Homo sapiens: one gene and its partners. The protein of the gene in region 4 interacts with the protein of the main gene of each other region in a pairwise test. Each region holds a gene or a part of one and is shown on either strand. Other genes may lie near its edges.

Evidence for each region.
Region 1: the proteins of KLRC1 (region 4) and LSMEM2 interact in binary tests that used the Homo sapiens proteins (3 or more experiments, as listed by UniProt).
Region 2: the proteins of KLRC1 (region 4) and PMP22 interact in binary tests that used the Homo sapiens proteins (3 or more experiments, as listed by UniProt).
Region 3: the proteins of KLRC1 (region 4) and CGRRF1 interact in binary tests that used the Homo sapiens proteins (3 or more experiments, as listed by UniProt).
Region 5: the proteins of KLRC1 (region 4) and MALL interact in binary tests that used the Homo sapiens proteins (3 or more experiments, as listed by UniProt).
Region 6: the proteins of KLRC1 (region 4) and CLRN2 interact in binary tests that used the Homo sapiens proteins (3 or more experiments, as listed by UniProt).
Region 7: the proteins of KLRC1 (region 4) and VTI1B interact in binary tests that used the Homo sapiens proteins (3 or more experiments, as listed by UniProt).

What each region holds. Positions count from the first base shown.
Region 1 is NC_000003.12:50,277,354-50,282,269, reverse strand, and holds the start of LSMEM2 (leucine-rich single-pass membrane protein 2), read right to left. Parts: upstream 3,184-4,916; 5' UTR 3,157-3,183; coding exon 3,099-3,156; intron 1-3,098.
Region 2 is NC_000017.11:15,262,527-15,266,818, forward strand, and holds the start of PMP22 (peripheral myelin protein 22), read right to left. Parts: upstream 2,801-4,292; 5' UTR 2,628-2,800; intron 27-2,627; exon of another isoform or gene 1-26. UniProt on the Homo sapiens protein: Might be involved in growth regulation, and in myelinization in the peripheral nervous system.
Region 3 is NC_000014.9:54,512,569-54,516,878, reverse strand, and holds part of CGRRF1 (cell growth regulator with RING finger domain protein 1), read right to left. Parts: intron 1-4,310. UniProt on the Homo sapiens protein: Able to inhibit growth in several cell lines.
Region 4 is NC_000012.12:10,445,016-10,448,250, forward strand, and holds the end of KLRC1 (NKG2-A/NKG2-B type II integral membrane protein), read right to left. Parts: intron 2,618-3,235; coding exon 2,517-2,617; intron 1,648-2,516; coding exon 1,536-1,647; 3' UTR 1,013-1,535; downstream 1-1,012. UniProt on the Homo sapiens protein: Immune inhibitory receptor involved in self-nonself discrimination.
Region 5 is NC_000002.12:110,087,880-110,092,189, forward strand, and holds part of MALL (MAL-like protein), read right to left. Parts: intron 3,892-4,310; coding exon 3,724-3,891; intron 1-3,723.
Region 6 is NC_000004.12:17,521,226-17,525,535, reverse strand, and holds part of CLRN2 (clarin-2), read right to left. Parts: intron 2,673-4,310; coding exon 2,493-2,672; intron 1-2,492. UniProt on the Homo sapiens protein: Plays a key role to hearing function. Required for normal organization and maintenance of the stereocilia bundle and for mechano-electrical transduction.
Region 7 is NC_000014.9:67,664,293-67,668,602, reverse strand, and holds part of VTI1B (vesicle transport through interaction with t-SNAREs homolog 1B), read left to right. Parts: intron 1-4,310. UniProt on the Homo sapiens protein: V-SNARE that mediates vesicle transport pathways through interactions with t-SNAREs on the target membrane. These interactions are proposed to mediate aspects of the specificity of vesicle trafficking and to promote fusion of the lipid bilayers.

The DNA of each region.
Region 1 (4,916 bases), on a different chromosome or scaffold from region 4:
TGCCTGTAATCCCAGCACTTTGGGAGGCCAAGGCAGGAGGATCATTTGAGTCTAAGAGTTTGAAACCAGCCAGGGCAACGTAGGGAGACCCCATCTCTACAAAAAAATCAAAGATTAGGGCCGGGCATGGTGGCTCACACCTGTAATCCCAGCACTTTGGGAGGCTGAGGTGGGCGGATCACGAGGTCAGGAGTTCAAGATCAGCCTGGTCAACATGGTGAAACCCCATCTGTACTAAAAATACAAAAAATTAGCCGGGCATGGTGATGGGCGCCTGTAGTCCCAGCTACTCAGGAGGCTGAAGGCAGGAGAATAGCTTGAACCCAGGAGGCGGAGCTTGCAGTGATCCAAGCTCAAGCCACTGCACTCCAGCCTGGGCGACAGAGCTAGACCTCGTCTCAAAAAACAAAAAAGTAATTAAAGATTAGTTTGGTGTGGTGGCATGCTTCTGTGGTCCCAGCTTCTCAGGAGGCTGAGGTGGGAGGGTTGCTTGAGTCCAGGAAGTCAAGGCTGCAGTGAGCTGTGATCATGCCATTGTACTCCAGCCTGGGCAACAGAGTGAGACCCTATCTCCAAAAAAAAAAAAAAAAAAAAAAAAATTCCCTGCTGCCGGGCGCAGTGGCTCACACCTATAATCCCAGCACTTTGGGAGGCCAAGGCAAGTGGATCACAAGGTCAGGAGTTTGAGACCAGCCTGGCCAATATGGTGAAACCCCGTCTCTACCAAAAATATTTAAAAATTAGCCAGGTATGGTGGCAGGCGCCTGTAGTCCCAGCTACTTGGGAGGCTGAGACAGGAGAATCACTTGAACCTGGGAGGCAGAGGTTGCAGTGAGCAGAGATCGTGCCACTGCACTCCACCCGGGGCGACAGAGCAAGACTCCGTCTCAGAAAAAAAAAAAAAAAAAAGGGCCGGGCGCAGTGGCCCATGCCTGTAATCCCAGCACTTTGGAAGGCCGAGGTGGGCAGGTCACGAGGTCAGGAGATCGAGACCATCCTGGCTAACACAGTGAAACCCCGTCTCTACTAAAAAATTCAAAACAAAAATTAGCTGGGCATGGTGGCTGGCGCCTGTAGTCCCAGCTACTCGGGAGGCTGAGGCAGGAGAATGGCATGAACCCGGGAGGCAGAGCTTGCAATGAGCCAAGATCGTGCCACTGCACTCCAGCCTGGGCGACAGAGCAAGACTCTGTCTCAAAAAAAAAAAAAAATTTCCCTCTTTGTACTTTGTTGTGCTTTTCTCACACTTTCTAAATTGAATGTGAATTGTTTATTACAGGAAAAACACACAGTAAATGTTATTGTTAAGATCCCAAAAGAGGGTAGGCACAGTGGCTTATGCCTCTAATCCCAGCACTTTGAAAGGCCAAGGTGGCTGGCCGGGCGCGGTAGCTCACACCTGTAATCCCAGCACTTTGGGAGGCCGAAGTGGGTGGATCACGAGGTCAGAAGATCGAGACCATGCCGGCTAACACAGTGAAACCCCATCTCTACTAAAAATACAAAAAATTAGCCAGGCGTAGTGGCGGGCTCCTGTAGTCCCAGCTACTCAGGAGGCTGAGGCAGGAGAATGGCGTGAACCCGGAAGGCGGAGCTTGCAGTGAGCTGAGATCGCGCCACTGCACTCCAGCCTGGGCGACAGAGCGAGACTCCATCTCAAAAAAAAAAAAAAAAGAAAAGAAAGGCCAAGGTGGGAGGATTGGATTGGTTGAGGCCAGGAGTTCAAGACCAGGGAGACCCTTCTCTACACACACACATGCATGAAAGTAAACATTTCCCCCTACCAGGGGCAAGGCCCCTCTCCTGCAATGTTGAAAATGTTGGCAGTGGCTCACGCCTGTAATCCCAACAATTTGGGAGGCCAAGGTGGGTGGATCACCTGAGGTCAGGAGTTTGAGACCAGCCTGGCCAACACGGTGAAACCTTGTCTCTACTAAAAATACAAAAATTAGCCGGGCATGGTAGCACATGCCTGTAATCCCAGCTACTTGGGAGCCTGAGACAGGAGAATAGCTTGAATCTGGGAGGCAGAGGTTGCAGTGAGCCGAGACCGCACCACTGCACTCCAGCCTGGGTGACAAAAAAAAAAAAAGTTGAGGCCAGGCGCGGTGGCTCACCCCTGTAATCCCAACACTTTGGGAGGCTGAGGTGGGTGGCTTACGAGGTCAGGAGTTCAAGACCAGCCTGGCCAAGATGGTGAACCCCCGTCTCTACTAAAAATACAAAAATTAGCTAGGCATGGTGGCAGGCGCCTGTAATCCCAGCTACTTGGGAGGCTGAGGCAGAGAATTGCTTGAATCTGGGAGGCGGAGGTTGCAGTGAGCCGAGATCACGCCACTGTACTCCGGCCTGGGTGACAGAGCGAGATTCCATCTCAAAAAAAAAAAAAAAGTTGAAAATGTGATAAGAGGAGCTTGCTAGCTGGGCCATGCTCTGTCATGGGCCATAACATGGAGCCATGGAGCAGACAGTCCTACGTCCTGGCCAGTACTGGACCTGTAGCTTCCTAGATTCCTGCTGCCCTGGCCCCTCTGAGCATCAGTACTTCTTATATGCAGTGGTGCAGTTAGGTGAGTGGCCACCAAGCTCTTGACTAGCTGAGTCTCTGTCTGACCAGGCCAAGGGACCCCCAACCCTAGGCAGTTGGGGATATTTAGACCCAAGTCAGGGGAGGCCAGAGGCCTAACTACTTTTCAGTCCATGGGACAGGTACCCAAATGCTTTCTGGAACCACTACCCACCCCAATCCCAGCTTCCTTCCTTAAGAGCTGAACCGGCCAGGCAGCTGACCGGATGCCCACACCCACCTGAGCACAGCCTGTAGTTGACCCACTCCTAACTGGGTAGCTTCTCCCATCCCTCCTTGATGTCCCCAGCAGGGGAAACTGAAGCAGGGCCTGAGGTGACAAGGGGCTCCAGGCATGGCAGGCTTTTCCTCCCTGCACAGGGGGCAGGTCCTTTTACTGGAGCTGGAGCATGAAAATGGGTAACTAACTACTCAAGACAGTGAGGTCAGTGGGACAGAGGGTGGGTCTCTCCATGGTCCACAAGGTCACAGGACTGAGGCCTTGCCCTCCCTCATGGTCACCCTCTCCTACCTTCTTGGGTCTCCTCAGGCATGGCAAGCAGTGGGCAGTCGGGGGCCAATGATGGCATCCAGTAGCAGGACTGGACAAATGCAGCAGTGGCTCCTTTGTGAGCCCAGGGAAGGCCTGGCTGCCTCCCAGCCTTGGCCTAAAATAGGCCTGAGCTCAGCCCACTGGGCTATATTTAGAGGGGGCAGCCCTCAGCCATGGGAAGGGGCAGAGTGATCCACGTGGGCCAGCCTGAACTATCTACCTGGTGAGGGAGCCAGCCAGGAGCCTGCCTCCACTAGTCCAGGTGCCCAGGGACCTTCAAGGGGAAGCACACCTCCCCCATACATCCAGAATGGCCACTCCAGGCTCAGCAAGGCCCCATGTGGCAGCCAAGACAGACAAAGGAAGCCTGTGCATCTCTATTTGGCCACCCCTCTACCCCTGCAGACTCCTACCCACAGCCCAGTCATCTCTCCTCCCAGCAAACACAGCAGCCTCCACTGCATGACCTGCTAGCACACAATGCTATTGTTGTGTGTGTCTTATAGAGGGTGATGGACAACTGAATCCCAATGCCATGAGGGCTCTGATAGCTTCACAAGTGGGCAGATACACCAACAGCACCCATGCTGGCCAGTGGGTGGACCTAGGTTGGAGGCTGGTTCATTTGTTACTAAGCTTGCAACCTTAGGTAAAGGGTCTCCCCTCTCTGAACTCAGTTTGCTCATGTGTAAAGTCGGAATAACAGTGGCTCCTCCCTGGCAGTGTACACTGAGAACAACATCTGGAGCATTTAGCACAATCCACGGTTTTGGTCTTCCCCTGCTCCCATCTCCACAAGGGCAGACAGGTCCCATAAGGTTGTGTAAGGATGCGCATCACTGCTTACCTTGAAAGGAGGAGGTGGTCCAGCTTCCAGCTTTCCCTCTGTGGTTGGATCCCTGTGCCCTTCCTTCCCAGTGGGGGCAAAGCAAGACTGTGGGCTCTACTTCCTACACACCTCAAACCTGTCACTCCGTTGTCTCACACTGGCCTCCCTGATGTTCCTCAAAGTCAACAAGCTTGTTACCACCTCAGGGGCTTGGTGGTGGCTGTTCCCTCCTGGAATGCTCTGCTCCCAGATAGCCCTGTGGCCAGCCCCGTCTTGTCAGCGAACTCAAATGCCACCCCTTCAGTGAGGCCTTCTGTGTACATTCTTTTCCACATCACCCAGTTTTCTTTTCTTTGAGACAGAGTCTCGCTCTGTTGCCCAGGCTGGAGTGCAGTGGGGCGATCTCGGCTCACTGCAACCTCTGCCTCCCTGGTTCAAGCAATTATCTTACCTCAGCCTCCTGAGTAGCTGGGATTAAAGGCGCGTGCCATCACACCCACCTAAGTTTTGTATTTTTAGTAGAGACAGGGTTTCACCATGTTGGTCAGGCTGGTCTTGAACTCCTGACTTCATGATCCGACTGCTTCGGCCTCCCAAAATGCTGGGATTACAGGCGTGAGCCACTGCGCCCGGTCCAGTTTTATTTTCTTCCTAGCACTTAGTCCTGAAGTTATATTATGCACAATGTACCCTGCGTGTCACTATTCCCAAAGGCCCTACAGAACCTGTTCAGTCACGCGGAACCACCTTTTTTTTTTTTTTTTTTTTTTTTTTTGGAGTCTCGCTCTGTCGCCCAGGCTGGAGTGCAGCGGCGAGATCTAGGCTCATTGCAACCTCCACCTCCCAGGTTCAAGCAATTCTCCTGCCTCAGCCTCCTGAGTAGCTAGGATTACAGGCGCCCGCCACCACGCCCGACTAATTTTTTGTATTTTTAGTACAGACGGGGTTTCACCGTGTTAGCCGGGATG
Region 2 (4,292 bases), on a different chromosome or scaffold from region 4:
GCTGCGCGCGCGCGAAGCAAGGGGGCAGTGGGAGGCTCCTGGCGTTCCCCTTTAACGGGAACAACGCCCTGTTTGCGTCGCTGCAGTAGGGTGTGTCCCTGGGTCAGCGTGTGCGGGAGGGCGGGACTCAGGGAGGAGAGGGGGCAGGAGAGAGGGAGGGCAGGAGACAGTCACTTGGCCTTAAATGCGCCTCAAGAAAAAGTCGGTCCCTGCAAAACCGCGGCGACTTTTACTCGAAACCAGAGGCGGCTGAGCTTTCTCACCTCCCACCTCCCTTCTCCCCTGGCCCCGTGGAGACCTAGTGTTGACCGAGAAACTGGCTCCTCAGCCCACTCTGGGAAGACCCAGCCAAATGTAGCTCAGCGGATGCCCAGGGCTGGGCTTCTGGGCCCGCCGACGCCGACCGCGCCCGCGCGGGGCTGAGGCTGGATTCCTTTCCCACTAATAGAGGGCAGCGGGCGCTTGAGCGCTGGAAGAAGTCCCTCTCCTCTCGGGTCCTGGAGCCCCTGCCCTGTCCTGGCGTCTTAGCCGGACACACCTGCCCCGCGCCGGTCCCCGCTATTACTGTCTGCACCTACGAAGCATGCCAGCTTCCTAGGATTGGCGGGGATTGATCTAGCGGGCTCCTCTTGGGTGCGAATTAGGGGAAGAAAAGTCCGGCCGACTACTGGATAGCATGGTCTGGGATTGGGCTCCTCCTAGCCTAGGCAAAACCAGACTACCACCGAATAAGCTCTAGGCAAAGTGTTCCTGCAGCAGTCGGGCTTGGCTGTCAGCCTTGGCTGGAGTCCTGGCCATGGGGTTTGGCGGGCGGGTGCGAGGTGGCCATTTGAGGTGGGGTTGGAGCAGCCAAGGAAATCAGCTGATTCATAGCCTCCTAACGTGGCCCGCCCAGCGTTACAGGGAGAGAGGCTAGCCCCCTTCAGTCTCGGCTTGGCAGAGGCGCGCCCAACTGAGACTCCCGTGCGCAGGCCAGCCTTGAGGCACGGGACAGGGAGCAGGAATGTGGATGTTAAAGGTTTCTGCCTGAAAATGCAGCAGTTCACGCACGCGCGCGCACACACACACACACACACACTTCCCTACCTCTAGTGTACTGTGTCATAGAAGCTCATCACTCTCAATGATTCAAATAATTCTATATTATTTTACGATTTGAAAGGAGCTGCTATTTTAGCTAATTGTATATTCTTACGGTAAGTAAAAATAAATTTGAAAAAGATCTTCAAACAATGATCTTTTTAAAACTATCGTGTTATCAGATTAAAATGAAGTGTACTTGTAAACACTGCATTTACAGTGCCCGTTATATGCCAAGCACTTTGCCTGGACTTTATATGCATGGTCTGTGAGAGGCAGTATGGTGCAGTGGTTAGGCACTCTGGCTCTGGGCTCCAACAAACCTAATCACCCTGCTTACTTTTGTTGTGAATTTGGGCAATTTCTCAAGTTCACTGAGCTTCAGTTTTCTCAGGTGCAAAAGGAAATAGTAATGCCTGCTTTAAAGGTTTATGGTGGTGATTGAAGGAGACAATATGTACAAAGCAGTTAACATCGTGTCTGCAACATAATAAGGGCCCAGTGCCCAAATTGCCACCACTATTATTATATCACATTTAACTCTCACATCAACCTTTCAGGGAAGACCTGACCACCTCTGCACTAAAGTAGCTTGTAACTCTGATAGGTAGGTAGGTAGGTAGGTAGATAGATAGATAGATAGATAGATATAGATAGATAGATAAAGATTTATAAATGAAAGTGCATATGCAAGTAGAAAAAAAAGTCTAAAGACATGGCAGTGTTTTCTTTCCTCCACAGGTCATTTTATAAGTTAGATTTGCTCTAGAAATTATTACTTTGTTTTATGCCATTTGGACATTTATTTATTTAACCAACACTTATGTGATCACAACATACTCAGGACTGTTCTAAGTAAGCACTTTAGAAATATGAGCATATCTAACTCAGGGTTTTCTTTCCCTTCCTTTGTGATTTTCAAATAAACTTTTTAATAAAGTCTAATACACATACAGAAAAGTGCATATATTGGGTGCTACAGCTCGCTTCTTCCTTTCTTTTGAACCCAATAGTTTAATCAATAACCACCCAGGTCACAGCCACACCATATACTGCCAGACAGGTAAACCCAACCCATCTGTCCCTCACTGCCTCTGGCCTCCTGCCTGGTTCTCAATGGTGGCAGAGGAAGTGCTACTCAGTGCCTGCTGACCAGGCTTGCCACACCCAGAGCCCGGCTGGCCAAGGCTCTGCCACAGGTGGCAGCTTCTCCCTAACCTGCTTACCAAGGCCACCTGCCAGCTGTGTGTGCACAGCTATTTTCCATGGGGGAAAAAGCATCTAGATTCCTTTCTTCCTTTCAATCTGGATGCATTAGGGTTTCTAGATGCTCTCAGATGGCCCCCCACCTCCCCAGCCAGAGTATATATCCACCTTTTAACCAAGGATATAAAAAGCCCTCTGAATCTCCAGTCAATTCCAACACAAATGCACCATCTCTCCTGCAATCCTTTTCATTTGCGGCTTGCAGGGGGTGGGAAATTAGGCAATTCTTGTAAAGCATAGGCACACATCACCCAGAGGCACAGTTTGCCAATAAAACTCACCCGGCCAAACAGCGTAACCCCTTCTTCCAAGCAGATTTCTTTGCAGCCAAATGCAAGGGATGTTAAGGCAAGACCCTCCCCACAGGGCAGTCAGAGACCCGCAGCCGACAGACTAAGCCTGCAGCTTCCAACCAGGCTCCCCGAGATGTTCCCTGGTGGTGCTCCCTGTAACTGAAGCCAGACCAGGCGTCTTTCCAGTTTATTCAGGGGCTGGTCCAATGCTGGGATATGTCATGGTGGCCTGAGAGGTTCTCAGCCTCTATTATTTAAAGAGACAGTGTCCAACTTTGTTTGCTTTCCAGAATACAATAATCCCAAGAGGCCCTGCAGGGCATGGAGAAACTGGAATCAGAAGGGAGAAGAGCTTTGAGTATGCCTGAAGCCTGTGATGCCAAGACTGTTCTCTCTGGAAGTGCCAACCTGTGTAATAGCCAAGAGGTCCCACTGGCTCCCCTCCCCTCCCAGTGAATTCTGCAGAGATTAAATATACTGTGGGAAGGATCTGTGTCTACAGTGTTACATACGTGCAGGTAAGTTTTATTTTAAATAAACTTCCTTTTAAGGAGCCCAAACATTGCACAGCTAATCTCTCACAGCATCACAGCAGTGAGCCAAATGTCTCAAGAGTCACCAAATCAAGCCTCCTTTGTTCCAACCCCTGGTTGGAAGGACTCCCTGTTACCTGCCTTGTCTGCCTAGACCCCATCGCAAATGATCACATGTGTTGTACATTAGAATAAAACTTAGGGAAATGTGTTCTTCCGACTCTGTCTTTAATGTGCCCGAATCAAGCTGACCTTCATGAGATAATTCAATGCAAGTAAACGAACCTCTATTGAAAACTATTGAAAACTTTCTAACCTGTCAGGCAGAATAGGCTGGAAGAGCAATTGGAAATTCTTGGAGAGGGAAGTAAAGGAAGTTATGGCATATTTAGGTTCTTTGCAGCGTACCACTCCAGCTCCCAGAGAGTCCTCCATCCCTTGAACCGCTTCTAGCTGCAAACTCTGACACAAGAGGACTGGTTTCATTGCATGAGTTTCCTGGAATTCTGGCACTTGGGGCATAAGACTTCCTCTTGTGTTAGGGATCCCCAGTCTGGAGAGACCTGCAGAATTTGGAGGAGTCCCTCCCTGTCACACACTTTACGTTTGATTGGACTCTCCAGTCACAAGGGCCTCTCAATGGCCCTCTCCCCTGTTCTGCCCACAGCCAGCATCTGCTCACAGCCAGCATCACAGCCAGTGCCAATAAAATAGTTTCACCTTTCTCTCTTTGCTGAAATCATTTTTATTTTTCACAGCAGTGGTTCTTTAGAATCACTCAAGAGCTTTGCAAATGACCTAGCCTGGGCCATGGTCAGAGAAGCTGACTCAGGTGTTTTGGGATGGGGCTCAGGTATGGGTAATTTCCAGTGTCTTTCTCCCCGCTGGATGTTTCGTTGTCCAGCCAGGTTGTCATGTGGAGTTAGATTGTCGCTGATTTCCTTCCAGCTCCCTTCTGTTGTGGAACCCAAATGGAGATGAGGTACAGTGTGGGCTGCTGCAGTATTATGCAAGTTATAAGTCTGTTCTGCCAGGCAAAACGGTGTGTGTGTGTGCGCGTGTATCTGTGTGTGTGTGTGTGCGCGTGTGCGTGTGTGTGACAGAGAGAGAGAGAGAGGAG
Region 3 (4,310 bases), on a different chromosome or scaffold from region 4:
ACTGAAATTGAAACACAGAAAGGAAAAAGACTGAACAACAACAACAACAAAAAGCATCAGTAAGCCAACTTTTAGTCAGCCATGTAACTGAAGTCTTAACATATCACTGAAGTTTGCAGAGGACAGATAAAGTATTTGAACACATAATGGCGAAAACCTTCCCCAACATGTTGAAAACTATAAAAACCTACAGACCCAAGAATCTCAATGAGCTCCAAGCACAAGAAACAAGGAAAATTACCTAAGGCACATAATAATCAAATTGCTTAAAACCAGTAATATAGAGAAAATCCTAAGAAAAAGAAAGAAGATATGCTACGGTAGCCAAAGAAAAGGAAAAAAAGATATACTACACATAGAGGAACAAAGATAAGAATGTCAGTAGCTTTTTAATATTAATAAGAAGCAATGGAAGGCAGAATATCTTTAAAGAACTAACAGGAAAAAAATCTTGTCAATCTAGAATTCTATACCTATATTTTTCCAAAGCAAAATAAAGACTTTTTCAAACATAACAAAAGCTAAAAGAATTCATCACCAACAGACTTGCACAACAAGAAAAATTAAAGTATGCCTTGGGAAGAAGAAAAATGATACCAAATAAAAATCTGGATTGATACAAAGAAATAAATAGCAGTGAAATGGTAACTACGTGAGGAATTATAATGCTTTTCTTATATCTCTTTAAAATATTACCTGAAGGTAGATGGTGATAAGTTAGAGATACATTATAAACTTTCAAGCAACCACTAAAAAAAGTTATTGCTAATAAACCAACAAAGGAGATAAAATGGAATCACATAAATTATTTAACTAATGTAAATGATGGCTGAACAAAGGGGAAAAAGAAACAAAAAACAGACTAGTAAAATAAAAGAGGGGAAAAGAAACAAAGAACAGACAAAACAAACAAAAAACGAATAGCAAGATGGTGGAATTAAATCTAACAATATCAATAATCACATTAAATGTAAATGTTTTAAACTCCCTAGTTAAAAGGCAAAGATTATCAGATTGGATAAAAACATAAGACCTAGCTATATGGTGCATACAAGAAACCCACTTTAAATAAAAAGACAAAAAGAGTTTACAAGTAAAAGGATGAAAAAAAGATGTATATGCTAACACTAATCAAAAGAAAGCTGAAGTAGCTACATTAATACCAGACAAAGTAGATCTCAGAGCAAAGACTATTACCAGGATCAAAGAGGTCCATTTCATAGTGATATAAGGGTCAATTCATCATGCACACAAAATAATCCTAAATGTTTATGTACCTATTAATAGAACTTCAAAATATAAAGCAAAAACTGATACAACTGCCAAGAGAAATAGATAAATCCACAATTATAGTCAGAAATTCTAATACTCCCCACAACTTCAATAACTGATAGCTCCAATATATAGAAAATCAGTAAGGACATCAAAAACTTGAATAACACTATCAACCAATTTGACTTAATTGACACTTATAAAACATCTCACCCGGCCGGGCGCGGTGACTCACACCTGTAATCCCAGCACTTCGGGAGGTCATCGCGGGCAGATCATGAGGTCAAGCGATCGAGACCATCCTGGCCAACATGATGAAACCCCATCTCTACTAAAAATTAAAAAAAAAAATTAGTTGGGCATGGTAGTGCACACCTGTAGTCCCAGCTACTCTGGAGGCTGAGGCAGGAGAATTGCTTGAATCCAGGAGGCGGAGGTTGCAGTGAGCCGAGATCATACCACTGCACTCCAGCCTGGTGACAGAGCGAGACTCTGTCTCAAAAAAAAAAAAAAAAACAAAAAACTCACCCAATAATAGCAGAATATATATTATTTTTAAGTGCATTAGGACATTTACCAAAGAGAGAATATATTTGGATTATAAAACAAGTCTCAATAAATTTACAAGATGTCAAATCATAAAAAGTATGCTAACCACAATGGAATCAAATTATAAATCAGTAACAGAGATATCTTTAAAATTTCCAAATATTTGGAAACTCAATAACAAACTTCTAAATAACTTAGAGGTCAAGAAAAAAATCAAAAGGGAAATTATTTTAAATTATGACCTGAATAAAAATGAAGACATATGTGTCAAAATGTGGGGGAATGCTGATAAAGCAGTACTTACAAGGAAATTAGAAGGCACTCAACATTTCTGTTCCATCTCCTGGAAGAGAAGACCAAATACAGCATGTTCTCACTTATAAGTGGGAGCTAAATGATGAGAACTCATGAGCCCAAAGAAGGGAACAACAGATACTGGGATCCACCTGAGGGTGGAAGTTAGGAGGAAGAACAGGAGCAGAAAAGATAACTATTGAGTACTGGGATTAATACCTGGGTGATGAAATAATCTGTACAACAAACCCATGACACGAGTTTACCTATGTAACAAACCTTCACATGTACCTCTGAACCTAAATGTTTAAAAACAACAACAACAGAAATCTCAACGTTATAAAATACAGGCCACCAATGAGTCCAAGTTTCCATCAAACAAACAAGTATGAGTTAACGCTTTAGATGCAGAATTTCTTGAGAATATACCCAGATGAATAAATATGATCTGATCTAGTGTTACATTCTATTCTCCGGCTTACAATCCATCCTCACATATATTCCTCAGGATTCCACAGATATAAATTAGCAAAATTTTGCAATTCTTTTCAAGGACAGACTATTTCTAGTCAGATCAGATTTTGTCCCTATACTAGGCAACATGCAGAGATCTGGGCCTCATGACAAGATAATAGAGGTAGCTCTTAAGTGTGGATAGCCCTTTGCAAAGAAACTACCCTAGGTGAGGTTATTACAGGATCTTCAAGCAAGAGAAGGCTAATTTTCAAAAGTAAGCAGCTTCTGTCAACAATGGAGGCTCAGAGTGACTGGAGTTTTTTTCAAGATTCTCAGCTCTGTCCATGTCTACCTAGATGTCCCCATTCCAAGTCTCAGGGTTCTACTTCTTTCCAAACAATATTCTAAATGAGACACTGACAAAGGCTAGGTAATTCTATTACTATCGCAGTTAAAACTGTGTTCAGGCACCTGCCACCATGCCTGGCTAATTTTTCTATTTTTTGTAGAGACCGAGTTTTGCCATATTTCCCATGTTGGTCTTGAACTTCTGGGCTCAAACAGTCTTCCTGCCTCAGCCTCCCAAAGTGCTGGAATTATAGGCAGTGAGCCAAAATCATGCCACTGCACTCCAGCTCGGACAACAGAGCAAGACTCTGTCTCAAAAATAACATAACATAACATAACATTACATAACATAACATAACATAACATAACATAACATAACATAACATAACATAAAACTGTGTCCAATTTTTAGCAAGTCTTTCCGTGGCTACACAAAATGAAGTGCTTTAGAACCATGGAAACTTTTTGATTCTCTAAGACTTGACCGATCTAACGCTTTGAAGACCTGAGTTTGTCATTTGCTTTCTGTCAGTGCTCCAGTGAACAAAGAAGCACCTATCTCACTTCTCACTTCTCCCTCAGTCCCTGTAGTCATCATTACTGCCATTAACAGTCAAGCGCTTTAGCCACTTGGTCCTCCAGCACACAGCTTCAGAAATAATTTTATCACAATCAACCAAATGTATCAATTTGATTGTGATGCCACTACATGTTGTGGGTTACTAGATTATTTCCCATTGGCAAAGAGCTAAAGAAATTACCAAACCGATGCCCCCAAATTCTATCTTTGAAAGTTTTCTCACCAGGATCCCATTCTTAGTGACAATTTCTTTATCAGTCAGGGTCCAGGCAGGAGTCTGAAAATGCATCCGTTATTTTAACAGAGAGATTGGACTTGATTTTTAAAGTTGTCAGCATCAACATCAAGAGAAATTTTCATATGAAAAATGTTAACCATATGTTGAAGAACTGAAAAGGCAAAAAGAGGACACTGAGTCCTACTTATGTGATAAGAAGTAGTAACAGCAGGAAGCAGCTATCACTCCTAGGACAAGGGAACAGAGAAAAGAGAATAAAGAGAATTTACTATAGTTTAGAAATGTGGAGGAGAGACTCTATGGAGCTCAGGACTCAGATCTGAGGAAAGGATACTGGTATCTTTAAGGAAGTGCATAAGGCTGATTCTAGCAGAGTAGGAAAGCATAAACTGGAACAAGTGGGACCAACTATTAATGCCAGAGTGAGGCACTATTGTGGCAAGTGACAGACAAGAAAAGGAATCAACAGGAAGCAGCAAGTCCCTTCATCCTCTTCCAGCTTTCCAGTCTCCCTCCCTTGTTGGCAAAGCCCAATGGGCAGTCAGCTTGCAAAGAAGAAATGTAGTTTAGAGT
Region 4 (3,235 bases):
TTGAAGTGATTCTCCTGCCTCAGCCTCTCGAGTAGCTGGGACTATAGGTGCACACCACCACACCCAGCTAGTTTTTGTATTTTTAGTACAGATGGGGTTTCAGCACGTTGGCTAGGATGGTCTCAATCTCTTGACCTCCTGATCCACCGGCCTCAGTCTCCCAAAGTGCTGGGATTACAGACATCAGCCACCACACCCGGCCAGCACTGATATTTTATGAGGGAAATATACAATGATCACCATGGATTTATTTCAGAAACAAAGGCTGGTTTAACATTTGAAAAAATAAAAGTAGTTTATAAAATGTTATATAAATACAACATATATCATTCCAACTGCTACAAATTAATAAAAATGTTACAATTGATAAAATCTATTAGAAAATAGGAATATTATAAAACTGCTTCGATATGAGAAAGATAGGATGAAAACAACACCAAGCTTTGTAAATATGAATAATATGTTTAAGTATTTTTTGCCAAAATCAGAAAACGATACATATGATACACACAGAACTTTGATTGTACCTTCTATTCAACTATGGGTATAAAACCCTAGCCAGTGAAAATAAATGAAAATAAAACTACGTTATAGCATATAGATTAAAAAAATAAAAGTGTGATCATGTGCAGATAAAATTGCTCGTTATATAGAACACCCAGAAATAAATCAATAGTTGACATAATAGATTTACATATATAAAATCAGTGGAATAAGTAGATATAAAATCAAAATGCAGACATCAGTTGTATTTCTATTTATAACAACAAAAATTACTAAAGGGAATTTTAGAATCAGGATGCCATTTACAAAAGCATAAATGTAAAATACCTACATTTCTGTATGACTTCAATCCCCCAAAATACAAAATACAATAGAGAGAAATTAAAGATAACACAGTACATTGAAGGAAACACTTTATATTGATTAGAAAAGTCAATATTATAAAGAAGCTAATCTTTAAAAATTACTTTAGAGAATAAATGCAGTCACAAATAATCCCAGGAGAGGCTTTTTTTTTTTTTCTGGATAGCTTTATTGAAGTGTCGTGTACAAAGCATACATTTCATGCACTTAAAATGATTAAAAATCAATGATGTTTAGTATATTCGCAGAGTTACAACCATCACCACTACTGAAATTTAGAAAGTTTTCATCACGACACAAAGTAACGTTCTATCAGTTAGAGGTCATCTCCTATTTCAACCTCCCTCAGACATTGGCAACCACTATTCTACTTTCTGTCTCCATGGGTTTGACTGTTCTTGGTACTTCCTATAAGCTGACTCACATAACATGCAACTTTTAGAAAGGCTGAAAACCACAAATACCATGTTGAGCAAAATGAGCCCGACACAAATGCTAGGATGTCTGTACTTTAGTAATTGTGTGTATCCTGTTTCAATAATTGATTTAGAATTTTCTTATTAGAGCAAATAACATAATTCATTTTAAGATTTATGCAATCATAATATATTTCTATTTTAAGAAATATACAATTTATCTGATGCACTGCAAATGCAAACGCTTTACCTCTAAAGCTTATGCTTACAATGATATATTATTGAAGATCCACACTGGGCTGATTTAAGTCGATTTACTTGTAGCACTGCACAGTTAAGTTCAGCATTATCTGAGTCTTTTATCCTGTAATGGAGAAAAATCCATATTCTGTTACATTTTAAGCAAATGATTCATGAGACGAAAGCATTTTCCATGTACTGTAAGAAAATAATTTCATGGAAAAGGGTAATTAAATTTTTCATAATATTAGTAAGAGTCATTATTCTGAACACTCAACAGAGTAGTCCCCCTTCATCCACGAGGGATATGTTTCAAGATTCCAGTGGATGCCTGAAACGGCAGATAGTGCAGAACCTATAGAGAGATTATGTTTTCTCTACACATTCATAACTGTGATAAAATTTAATTTATAAATTAGGCACAATAAGAGATTGACAACAATAACTACTAATAACAAAATTATAGCAATATGCCAACAGCACTACTCTTGTGCTTTGAGGATATTCTTAAGAAAAAAAGTAAGTGTGGCTTTTTAATAAAAACAAGCACTGCAATTCCCTGATAGTCCAGCTCGAGCTTGTCCAACTCGCTGCCCACGGGCCGCATGTGACCCAGGACAGCTTCAAATGCGGCCCAATACATATACGTAAACTTTCTTAAAACATTCTGTGATTTTTTTTTTCTTTTTTTTGCTCGTCAGCTATCGTTAGTGTTAGTGTATTTTATGTGTGGCCCAAGACTCTTCTTCTTCCAATGTGGCCCACAGAAGCCAAAGATTGGACACCTGATAATCAAGAAGGTTACTAGCTGACCAATGAGCGGTTGAAATATATGGACTACTATGGTCTATTGTAAAATATTTATGTCAGCATTTCACTAACTTTCCACATCTTTCTTCATCTCTATGATTCCACATAGATTTATTCATATTATTCTTCTGAATTTATCCTTTATATATATATTGTTATATAGCGCCATACAAAACAACTTACTCATGTTTGAAAGCCAAACCATTCATTGTCACCCATGGATGATGACTGCTGTTACGAAACACACCAATCCATGAGGATGGTGAAATGATGGACAGAAATTTCTAAAAGAAAAGAAAGAATTTTCACTTAAATAATAATTATGAAAACATTACAAAAACAATATATTAAATTTGAAAACCACTATTTGCAGTGCCAAAAACTTTCATAAATGTTTATAATTTTGATATAAATGAACCCGTCAATGTTTATACTTAGTACTTTTATTCTTCTCATGTTAATAAAGAAGTTTTAATTCTTGCATTATAATAGTTACCCCAATTGACTGAATAAACACAGTAAGGATTTAAATAAGTCTCCTGATACTGTGCATTCATTCCTCCAGATACTGTGACTAAATCAAACTATTTTTGTGCTATATTTCTCAGAGTTGGAGATTTAGAAGAGAAATTAGAGGTTGTGATTCAGAAATAAATGACATGGAAGCTACATATTGGGTTTTCTGGGTACCACACCATTCTTTAACTAGATAAGCCCTCACTTTTTTATCTGATTTGGTTTTGGTGGAATAACAGTGATCCTGACCAGGTGGTGTAGACTCGTCTCTCTCTGCTACTCCCTACTAAAAACAACTATAAACTCTGGGATTAATGAAAGACAAAAGCAATGGAGAACTCTGAAAGGTGGAAAGAGAAAGATGAAATTGTCTGGGACCCTAGCAT
Region 5 (4,310 bases), on a different chromosome or scaffold from region 4:
AATTGTAATCCCCACATGTTGGGGGAGGGACCTGGTGGGAGATGACTGGATTATGGGGGCAGTTTCCCCATGCTGTTCTCGTGATAGTGAGGGAGTTCTCATAAGATCTGATGGTTTAAAAGTGTGACACTTCCCTCTCTCACTCCTGCTGCCATGTAAGGTGTGCCTTGCTTCCCCTTCGCCTTCCACCATGATTGTAAGATTCCTGAGACCTCCCTAGCCATGCAGAACTGTGAGCCAATTAAACCTCTTTTCCTTATAAATTACCCAGCCTCAGGTAGTTCTTTACAGCAGTGTGAGAACAGACTAATACAGAAAATTGGTACCAGGAGTCAGGCACTGCTATAAAGATACCTGAAAATGTGGAAGCAACTTTGGAACTGGATAATGGGCAAAGGTTGGAACAGTTTGGGGTACCCAGAAGAAGACAGGAAGATGTAGGAAAGTTTGGAACTTTCTAGAGACTTGTTGAATGATTCTGACCAAAATGCTGATGGTGATATGGACAATGAAATCCAGGCTGAGGTGGTCTCAGATGGAGATGAGGAACTTATTGGGAACTGGAATAAAGGTCACTCTTGCTATGCTTTAGCAAAGAGACTGGTGGCATTTTACCCCTGTCCTAGAGATCTGTGGCACTCTGAACTTAAAAGAGATGATTTGGGGTATCTGGCAGAAGAAATTTCTAAGCATTGAAGCATTCAAGATGTGACCTGACTTTTCCTGAAAGTGTACAATCATATGCATTCACAAAGAGATGGTCCAAAATTGGAACTTATGTTTAAAAGGGAAGCAGAACATAAAAGTTTGGAAAATTTGCAGCCTGATCATGTGTTAGAAAAGAAAAACATATTTTCTGGGGAGAAATTCAAGCTGTCAGCTGCAGAAATTTTCATGAGTAATGAGGGTCCCCAAGACAAAGGGGACGATATCTCCAGGGCATTTCAGAGATCTTCACAGTAGCCCCTCCCATCACAGGCTCAGAGACCTAGGAGGGAAAAATGGTTTTGTGGGCCAGGCTCAGGGCCCTGTTGCTCTGCACAGTCCTGGAACACAGCACTCTGCAACCCGGCTGCCCCAGCTCCAGCAGCTGGGGGCCAAGGTACAGCTTGGGCCATTGCTTCAGAGTGTGTAAGCCTCAAGCCTTGGCAGCTTACACATGGTGTTGGACCTACAGGCATGCAGAAGGCAAGAATTGAGGTTTAGGAACCTCTGCCATGATTTCAGAGGATGTATGGAAATGACTGGATGTACAGGCAGAGTCTGCTGCAGGGGTGGAGCCCTTATGAAGAACCTCTACTAGGGCAGTGCAGAAGGGACATGTGGGGTCAGACCCCCCACAGAGAGTCCCCACTGTGACACTGGCTAGTACAGCTGTGAGAAGAGCTGTCCTGTAGACCCCAGAATGGTAGGTTCACTGACAGTTTGCACTGGTCACCTTGAAAAAGCACAGACACTCAATGCCAGTTTGTGAAAGCAGCTGCAGGGGCTGTACTGTGAAGAGCCACAGAGGTGGAGCTGCCCAAGGTCTTGGGTGCCCACCCTTTGTAACAGGGTGACTTGAATCTGAGACATGAAGTCAAAGGAGATTTTGGAATGTCGACATTTAATGGCTGCCCAGCTGGGTTTAGGACTTGCATGGGGCCTGTAGCCCCTTTGTTTTGACCAATTTCTCCCATTTGGAATGGGAGCATTTACCCAATGCCTGTACCCTTATTGTGTCTTGGAAGTAACTAACTTGCTTTTTGATTTTACAGGCTCATAGGCAGAAGAGACTTCTCTTGTCTTAGATGAGACTTTGGACTTAAACTTTTGGGTTAATGCTGGAATAAGTTGAAACTTTGGGGGACTGTTGAGAAGGCATGATTGTATTTTTAAATGTGAGAAGGATGAGATTTGGGAGGGGCCAGTGGTATAATGATATGGTTTGGCTCTTTGTCCCCACCCAAATCTCATCTCCTATTGTAATCCACATGTATCAAGGGAGGGACCTGGTGGGAGGTGATTGGATCATGGGGGCAGTTTCCCCTATGCTGTTCTCATGATAGTGAATGAGTTCTCATGGGATCTGATGGTTTAAAAGTATGGCACTTCCCCCTCCCCCATCTCTCCTGCTGCCATGCAAGGCATGCCTTGCTTAGCCTTCACCTTCCACCATGATTGTAAGTTTCCTGAGGCCTCCCTAACCATGAGGAACTAGTCAATTCAACCTCTTTTCTTTATAATTTACCCAGTCTCTGGTTGTTTATAGCAATGTGAGAATAGACTAATACACAGTGTTTTTAATGTAATATCTATGTCGTAAGCAATGGCAGACTAATAAAGATCAGTATATTTCAGTTACGCAAAGTCAATCTTGGTCTGAAATATTAAATGAAAAATTCCAGAAATTAACAATTAAATGTGTGCCTTTCTGAGTACAATGATGAAATCTTGCACTGTCCCGCCCTGTTCCACCTGGGATGTGAATCAGACATTTGTCTAGCATGTCTACACTGTCTGTGCCACCCATGTTAGTCGCTTTGTACTCATCTGGGCTATCAGATCAACTGTTGTGGCACTGCAGTGCTTGCATTCAAAGAATCCTTATTTTACTTCATAATGGCCCCAAATTGCAAGAGTAGTGATGCTGGCAATTTGGATATGCCAAAGAGAAGTCATAGGGTGCTTTCTTTAAGTTAAAAAGTATAAGTTTTCAGCTTAATAAGGAAAGAAAAAAAATATGCTGAGGTTGTTAAGATCTACAGTAAGAATGAATTGTCTATCTGTGAAATTGTGAAGAAGAAAAAAGAAGTGCATGCATAGCAAATTCGGAGTTCAGTACTCTCTGAGGATTCAGGCATCCCCTAGGGGTCTTGGGACTTATCCTCCGGAGATGGGGGACCACTGTATACTGTCTTAGGTATGCTGAGGAATTGTTTACTTCGTATACATGTGATAATGTGAGAAAGTTTGCGGAGTTTTTTTGGAAACATACTGAAGTGTGTGGAATAGAATGGCATGATGTTTGGTGTTTGCTTTAAAATTCCTTAGTGGGGACAAAGGCTAGATGAAACAAATGTGGTAAGGTCTTGATAATGCTGGAATCTGGGTTATGGCTACATGAGGGCCTATAATACAATATTCTGTACTTTTAAATATGTCTTCAATTGTTCAGTGTGGAACAGTTTTAAATGGTTTTTTGAGATGACGTGATAAATAAAAATTAGTGATGTAATATTAAATGAAAGCATCTACATCCAAAATTATTTGTAGAGTACAATTAAAGTATATATATACATATATATACATATATACATATGTATATACGTATATATGTATATATACTTTGCATATAATTCATGTGGGATATGGAAGAAATACCCTGTCGCAGGGATTGTGTTAGGGCCTTGAGAATGGAGTGATTTTTTTCCTACTAGCTTTTTCTTCAGTGTTGCTCCAAGGATTTTACCAGGAAGAAAATTTAGGGGAAACACATCAGAATATGCTTGATCACAGGTCATTGTGTATTCTCCTAACAGGGAAGCCAGTGAAGGGGAATACCAGGAATTATTTACGCTTGCAGATAAATGTCTTCATTTTAGCGTGGTAGTAAAAATGGTAAGATAAAAAGTCTTGGTTCCATAGGAGCCTAGCCCAGGATCCCTCCCTGCCCAGAAAGGCCAATTGTCCTCACCCAACCCAGAACGTCCACCCAGGAAGAGCCATGCTGCTGGTTCTTACCAGAACTCTCCAGGATTCAAATCTTTTGTAAAATCCAAACAAGTAAGACAACAGGAACATCAAGGAGATGAGAAACGAGGTGAGCGAGACATACATCACCCATCCTTGCAGCAAGGGGTATACTATGTGGGTGGCGGCTACCATGGTCCAGACCAAGAACCCAAATATCTGGAAGATAAAAGCATAAAAGAAGGGGCTTCATTAGCTAGTGTGGAGTATGTTTCCCTTTGCAGGGTGTCTCTTTTCTGTCTCTAGTTACAAGTTCAGGTGAAGTTAGGAGGGAACCAAGAGGAAAATGGGGAAGGAAGGCTGGCCCCGCTGAGTCACGGTAAAGTCAGGTCCGATTGTTAGAAAATTCAAGGGGTTAATGCAGAGGTCATGAACAGAGGGACTCTCAGCCAAATCTAGCTTGTGAATGTGTCTTTTGGCTCAAGCAGTATTGGCATATACACTTTTTAAACAATTCTGAATAAGTTCCCAATATTCAAAACAGGATATTTCACATGGAAAATCCAGATTTGGGACATTTCTTTAGAAATCCATGGTTCTGGCCACAGTGTACCCATTTCTCAGGCCAGAGTAGGCTG
Region 6 (4,310 bases), on a different chromosome or scaffold from region 4:
TGGGATCATGGGTGCATGCCACCATGCTTGGCTAATTTTTGATTTTTGTTGGTTTGTTTGTTTGTGGAGATGAGGTCTCACTATGTTGCCCAGGCTGGTCTTGAACTCCTGAGCTCAAGCAATCCTGCTGCCTCAGCATCCCCAAGTGCTGGGATTACAGGCGTGAGCCACCGTGCCAGGCTTACAGCATGACTATAAATGAGTGCATAGTATTTTATGCACTACACACTATAATTTATGTAAGTATTTTTAGTAGAGACTAAACAGTCTCTACTAAATTATAGAAATAAGGTCACACACTATAATTTATGTAAGTATGACCTTATTTCTGGATGTCTAGATTACTTCTAATTTTTTGATATTATAAAGTGCTACAGCAAATACCATTTTATGTACATCCTTGTTCTCTTGTCCAGTATTTCCTTAGCATAAATTCAAACATGGAATTGTTTAGTCAAAAGATATTCAAAGGCTATTCACCTTTTTCTGCCTTCTGACACTACAGTGTTGTTGTTTTTTTAAGCTCAGTGGCAAGAAATAAAGTTTTGTCAAAAGACATAAAGCTTTGCCTGTTTTTATTTTTTATTTTTTGAGACAAGGTTTCGCTCTGTTGGCTGAGGCTGGAGTGCAGTGGCATGATCACGGTTCACTGCAGCCTGGACCTCCCAGGCTCAAGCAATCCTCCCACCTCAGCCTCCCTAAGTGTTGGGATTATAGCTCTCAAGCAGCTGAGACTACAGGCACCGGACACCATGGACAGCTAATTTTTTTTTTTTTTTAGAAATGGGGTCTTGCTGTGTTGCCCAGGCTTTTTTGCCTGTTGCTAATACTCTCATCAGTAGAGTCTGAGAGTGCTATCTCTCTAAGGAAAGGAATGGACAGAGATAAATATTTATTTAATAAGCAGCGTTGAGCACTTTTTACATGACAGCCTCTGTGAGGATTCATGCAGATGAGGAAGACACCTGTAGTCTTGATGAGGGTAAGCCATGTATGTAAACAATTCTACAGGGTGGCTACCATCTGCAAACAAAGGCAAATACATAATAATTGATTGATTGATATACATTATAATACATAATAAAATAACATTACCTGTTTTTATATTATTCTTGTATAAGGTAATCATAGCGAGGGATTATTGTTCTAATGGTACCTTGAATATTTGACCTGAGTTTTCTGTGACAGCCCTCATTTCACAAGATTCTGTTATTTTCATTACAGATGATTTGTTAAGTGCATAATTAAATGTGAATTAATTTCTGTGCATCAATATACTCCCAAATCAACATGCGCGCGCACACACACACACACACACACACACACACACATCTTGTAGTTTTTGGCTTGGAAAACAGGTCATGATGGTCATAAATGAGAGCATGGATCTGTGGAAAAATAAAGAGCTTAGAATCAGTTACACCTAGGTTGGAATACCACCTCTGCCACTCATTGTGGTGCGACTGTTTAACTTCTCTGAGCCTCAGGCTCTTCATCTGTAATTGTGGGTCTAATAATACCTCCCATAGGGATGTGGTGAGATTTAAATGAAGCAATGCATGCAAAATCTCCAGGTCCCTGCCCAGCCCTTAGTGGTTGCTCAGTAAGTTGCATCTAGTTTAAGGGCATGGTGCAGTGAAGGTGTTGGGGAGGTGAGAGGAGGGAGAGTTGAGACAGCCAGTGAGCCACGTCTGCATTAATATGCCCAAGTGTGTGTGTGGGGGGAACACCAAAGACCTTGGCAACTAGATGGCACTCACTTCCCCTTCTCAACCCAGAGCCTGAATGGAGGAGCCTTTCACGAATGGCCTCTTGCTCACACTACCCTTCTCTTCTGTCATTTGTGGAGTTCCTCCCAGCCTTAGCTGCAGCACCAGCTCCATCTCTTTCCCATCTCAGGGCCCCCACCTCTCCCTACTTCCAGCTCTCTGTCTTCTGGCTTCTTCTTTCACCTCGATCTCTCTTCACTGCTCTAAGCCCTCAGCCATTCACGTACTCTAATAAGATGCTTCTTTGTTGTGACAGACTCTGCAACTTAAAGAGGAAATTCTTGAGCACTTTGGGAGGCTAAGACAGGTGGATCCCTTGAGCTTAGGAGTTTGAGACTAGCCTGGGCAACATGGTGAAACCTGTCTCTATAAAAAATACAAAAAATTAGCTGGGCATGGTGGTGCACGCCTGTACTCCCAGCTACTTGGGGGCCTGAGGTGGGAAGATCACTTGAGCCCAGGAGGTCAAGGCTGCAGTGAACTGAGATCGCACCACTGCACTTCAGTCTGGGTGACAAAGTGAGACCCTGTCTCAAAGAAAAAAAAAAAAAAAGAAAAAGAAAAAGAGGACATTCATTCCATGCCCATCAAGAAGGTCTTAGACCCAGGAAGGTCAAGGCTCCAGTGGGGCATTTTAGTTCCTTCACACCTTCTGCCCAACTACTTGGAGCCCAGCCCTATGATGGTGTGGACATAATTTTCTCTCCCTAAGGGACTTCTTACCTGCCAGGACATTCCATAGGCAGATGCCCCCAGGACCGCTGACTGCCCGGTACGGGACCTGGATCATGTTAAGAATGGCAAAGCCCATGCTGACCAGAGCCAGGGCCAAGGCCAGGAAGAGGAGCAGCAGAATCATCACATGAAGGCCTGCGTTGAGCTCCTTCACCAGGTGTGGGAAGACTGGGGAGACAAGACACAGCCACTATTTCAATGTCAGAGTTAGACTCACTTTCATGAAGTCCAAGCTTGCTTACCACGAAGGCTTCGACAGACAGGGGTGAGGGCAAGACAGCAAGCGTGGGGATTTCAAACAGCGGGAGACTTTCTGAGATGAACTCATGGCCCCCAGATTCATGCTTGTCAGTTGACCAACAAGCCTCTGTTCCTTAGAGTGGACACAAAATCAAAATATGCCCTGGCTGTCAATTTAAGTTGCATTGAGCTTGAAGCTCTGGGATCTGATGTGAACTGATGCACACAGGCCCCAGTGACTTAGCAAGGTAGACCCTGGCTTATCCCCATGTATGAAGGACACATAATTCTCACGTTGCACAACGTTTTATTAAAATATTAATTTGCCTTATGAGTATGGCAAAATAAGTTAGTGAAATCTTAATTCATATTTGTTTTCTCTATGTTTGCCAGCAGTACCAGCTGTGAAGATGAAATGACATAACATAATAGAGTAGCTCAAATAGTGCCTGGGAAAGTCAGTTCTCAAAAATGGCAGCTGTGGTTATTGCTGTTATATTTTGACAGTCTTGGGAAAGTCATGTGACTTCTCAAGCCTCAATTTCTTCATCAGTACAATGGGGATAGTAATCCCTGCATATGAATTGAGGATAATCAACATTTACTAAGTGCAGTCATGGGCCAAACATTTTACATCGTCATCTTGTTCAATGTGCATGACAAAGACATGAGGTAGATTTTATAAACTCCTTATACCCACAGGCTTGGAGACATTAATTGCTTGTGTTTGGGGAAGGCAACTCTTAATTCTATATAAGATTATAGTTCAATATACTATGAGAACAAATGTGACCCTGAAAGAGCCCGTCCTTCAAGATGGGTCCTGAGTGGTTAACTGGCTCTAAATTTAAAGTAGGGCCAAGTGGCCATTTACTGACTAGGGGGTCACACGCATCTTCTGAGTTCCTTGAAAACCCACACCTTTTTATCTTTGAGATCTGCCTCAGCCAATCAGGGCTCAGCTGTAATGACCAATCGGGGCTCAGCTGTACCAGCTAATCAGGGTTCAGCTGTATCCACCAATCAGAACTAAGTGAATTTGAATCCTTTATTTACCCAAACAGACCTGACTGGAAACCTGGGTGGGAACTTTTGCTATAAAATCTGAGCCTTCCCTTTCTTCTCTGGAATACACCTTCCTTTTACACCGGAGGCTGTGTTTCCCTGGTTTGCAAACCGTTAACTGGAATAAATTCTTTACTCCAAATTCCTTTTCTGAGAACTGTTGTTCACAACTGTATGGTATCAACAGTGTCAAGTCATGATCTTTAGTAGTTTTACATGAAGAATTGAACATTATGAAAGCTACAGAACTTCTGAGCATACTCATTCCTCTGCAATTGCTCCAAGGTTCCTGCTGAATACCCACCCTGATGGAACTAGTTCCTTTGCTGGTTCACCTGCCTCTCTTAGTCACTGAAGGTTGGCGTCTCCCAGTCCTGAGAACTAGAGTTTTTGTTTTTCCCGTTAGGTGTCCCGTTAGGTGACACATTTTCAGGCACTCCACGTTTACATTGTGCGTTCTGATGTTTCTTTCCAGTTCTGAATTTCCATTTATTTTTATCT
Region 7 (4,310 bases), on a different chromosome or scaffold from region 4:
CTATTGGATGATGGAATGTGTGAATTGTTGGAAAGAAAATATTGATATATGATTGTGATTTATTTCTATTCTGTTGTCCACATTTTCATTACTTTAAAAATGGGTATATTCCACCTATTAAAACAACAAAAACTGTATTTCTCCAAAGTACAGTCTCCATTCACTTTCTGCCTTTGAATGATACTAGAGACAATGTGTCCTGTTTTAGGAAGTTTTTGTGTAACTGTCCATTACCACTTACAATAATTATTAATCCATTTAATATTTCATTAAATACCTATGGCCATAATTTCTACTCTTGGTTTTACAACCTCTGAAGAGGTCTCTCCAATTACCTCAGAGTACTATAATGTGCTATAATTTCTTAATCTAATCAATGTTAAATGCCTGTGGTCATGATTTCTAGTTTTGGTTTTGTCATACCTGAAGACATCTCTCCATATGTCTTAACGTGTATCATAAAAATATTGAAAGTTTTCCATTTTAAATCATTTAGATCAGTATGTATAACACAAGACCCTATTATTTTCAGAGCCAGAAAAAATAGTCACTATGGAGTACTATAATCAGCTGGCCGATAAACACCAATTACTTACAGACTGTAGAATTTTAACTATTCTAACTCCTCATTTTTTTTGTTTGTTTGTTTTTTGTTTTTTGAGATGGAGTGTTGCTCTTTCACCCAGGCTGGAGTGCAGTGGCGCGATCTCGGCTCACTGCAACTTCTGCCTTCCGGGTTCACGCCATTCTTCTGCCTCAGCCTCCCGAGTAGCTGGGACTACAGGCGCCCACCACCACGCCGGGCTAAGTTTTTGTATTTTTAGTAGAGACAGGGTTTCACTGTGTCACCCAGGATGGTCTCGATCTCCTGACCTCGTGATCCGCCCGCCTCGGCCTCCCAAAGTGCAGGGATTACAGGCGTGAGCCACCGCGCCTGGCCTCTAACTCCTCATATTTTCTACTGAATTTGGTTTTTGCTCTTAGGTTCTTCCTAAGTATTTACTTTCAGAAACAATGGTGGTTTCTATTTATTGAGCCCTTATTATATTTGGCACTTGCTAAGTGAATGTTATGTGTATTATTTCTTTTAACCCTTTCAAACAACCCTTACAAGGTCAGTAGTCTTATAGTCCCTATTTGCAGATGAGGAAACAGGTTGGTTGAGAGGGATCTCTGTTGCTTTTAACTCTTGTATGGTGTGGGATCTAGTCAGCTGTCACGGTGTACAAATAAAGGGTGTAAGTCCTCCATTTTGCCACAGTGAGGCACCAAAAGCAAAGTAACCACATATTTATGAGCTGGTGAAACTGAAGTTGTTTCCACAACTTTAAAGGGCCAAGATTAGGCATTCTTGGGCTGGAAATTCAAATCCCCATAAGGAAGAGAGGCTGCCCACCTTGGTCAAACATTAAGGTAGGCTTTCTGTAGTGCTGTTTTTCAGAGCTGTCTGTTTCCATTTTACTCCATGTCAGCATCCACCCAGTTTCCCAAAGGAGACAGAGTTGGTCCCAGAGAGTCCCTCACATGTGACTGATTTGGGCAGGCTTGTGGGGTGGGGGATAGTGGTATTTGAAGTGGTTCATTCTTGTTCATGGTGCCCATTCTCCCCAGGATGCCACCTTGCTGTTTGTAGTTGATTGTAGCATCAATTCTAACTCCCTAAAAAGAGGAAGAGGTTTTTTGTTTTTTCAACAGATTTTACCAGTTGTTAAAGGCTATACTCTGGGAGCACAAAAATGCCCCTCAGTTGTATACAGTATACAGTTGTTTAATATACAGAAAAGCCTTGGACTGGGAGTCAGCACACTTGCATTCCAGAACTAGTGCTGCCATACATTTGCTGTTCCAATGACTGTGGGGCAGGCACTCAGTTTCTCCAGGGTCTAGTGTCCTCAGTGGTAAAGGCAGGAAGTTAGACTAGATGATCGCTGAGGTACATCCTAGCTCTAGCATTCATTGGTTTCATAATTCTGAGCCTAAAGAATTTTTAAAAAGCTGCTATTGATCCCTCTCAGTTGGGTAGAGATCAGTCTCTTGAATTATCTGCCTCCCTGGCTTTATCATCACAAGAAATGATTTCAAAGGTTTCTGTTTTGTTTTGTTTTAAATCTTAGAAGTCCAGAAAGGATCTCATAAATGTAGTGAAGTTCTGTAAAAGTATGTTGTTATAGAGCACTTATAAGAGGAAATGTGTTTTATGAAATCAGGTAGGAAATGGAATATTCTAGCACACAGAAGTTAGTGAAAGGAGAGAGGTTCTGTGGTCTTCTTCTCCCCCTTTCATTTATGTAGTTACATTCCTGGAATCATTCTAGAATTTGCCTCTTGAGAATGCGGATTTTCATACCCATTAACAAAGGAAGAATAAAGGAGGAGAATTTATGACTAAACACAGTTGTAGAAAAGTCTAGGAAAGGAAGGAGCTAGGAAGGGAATGTACATATGTGTACAGTACTGCTTCTTACTGTCTGGCTTGGATCAGGAGTGAGCATGCCTGAGTTTGGAGATGTGCTGACTCAGAGCAGTGATGATGCTCAGCACTTTTGGGACAGCTTATTACAAAATAATACAATACTGCTCCATGGAAGTAGCCGTTTTTGACTGTCGGTATTATTTCAGTACTGGTAGCTAAGAACACATCCCCCTCAGGAACAGTAATAGCTGCCTTGGTGCTCATTTCAGTTACATCATAGATGGTCAAGAGTCATACCATTTGCCATGGTGAACCTTCCTCTACCTTTTTTTAAACAACAAACAGCCATGGGTTTTGTGAGTGGTATGGAGAAAATTGTCTGAAGTATCTTGTGTATATTAAGGGGGTGGCACACAACAATGAATGAGACATAGTAAAGGGTGTGTTGTCATTTGCCCTTTCAGGCAGTAGCCACATCTAAGGAGGTTTATAGTTCTAGGATCTATGGCACAGTAAAAATGACAAAATAAATTTCCATGTTTCAGAGGAACTTGGTCTCAAGTTGAGATTATAGAATATACGCATCCAAAATGATTTATGGTCACTTAAAAAGTGGGATACAAGGACAGGTGTGGTGGCTCACACCTGTAGTCCCAACACTTTGGTAGGCTGAGGTCGAGGATTGCCTGAGCCCAGGAGTCAAGACCAGCTTAGGCAACATAGTGAGGCCCCATCTCTACCAAAAAAAAAATTAGCTGTGTGTGGTAACCTGCACCTGTAGTCTCAGTTACTTGGGAGGATGAGGCAGGAGAATTGCTTGAGCAGGTGGGAGGATTGCTTCAGCCTGGGAGGTCGAGGCTGCAGTGAGCCGTAATCATGCCACTTCACTCCAGCCTGAGTGAGACTGTCTCAAAAAAAAAAAAAAAAAAAGATATAACTGACATTAGATGCTGTTGTGATTAACAAAATGTAAATCCATATAAAGCATTACAGTGACATTACATCTTATGTAGGATTGGGTTCAAAAGTCAGGGCTTGGCCGGGTGCACTAGCTCACACCTGTTATCCCAGCACTTTGGGAGGCCGAGATGGGTGGACCACACAAGGCCAGCCTGGCCAACATGGTTAAACCCCCTCTCTACCAAAAAATAGAAAAATTATCTGGTTGTGGTGGTGCACTCCTGTAACCCCACCACTCAGGAGGCTGAGGCATGAGAATCACTTGAACCCAGGAGTTGGAGTTTGCAGTGAGCTGAGATGACGCCACGGCACTCCAGCCTGGGCAACAGAGTGAGACACAGTCTCAAAAAAAGCCAGGTCTTAAGATGAAAATCAGAGTAGACAAATCATCTAAGAAAATCTCAGGACAGCAACTGAATACCCACATGCCATTTCTCCATAAGCCCGGCTCATCTGTTCTCTTTTGCAGCGGAAAGGCTGAGGTGGATGGATCACTTGAGGTCAGGAGTTTGAGACCAGACTGGCCAACATGGCAAAACCCTGTCTTTATTAAAAATGTAAAAAAATTAGCCGGGCATGGTGGTGGGTGCCTGTAACCCCAGCTGCTCGGGAGGCTGAGGCAAGAGAATCGCTTGAACCTGGGAGGTGGAGGTTGCAGTGAACCGAGACCGAGCCACTGCACTCCAGCCTGGGAGACAGAGCAAGACTCTGTCTCAAGAAAAAAAAAAAAATTGCTCTTTAGTTGGTGGAAGTGCTGCTGGCTTGTGTTTAGGAGTCACATTGAAAAATACATAGCTTTAAAAGGCCATATCCCCATACGTGCAACAGCATAGATGAACCTTGACTTTGTGCTAAGTGAAATAAGCTAAACACAAAGGACAAATATTGTATGATTCCACTTAATGGTGTACCTGGAGTAGTGAAATTCATAGAATGG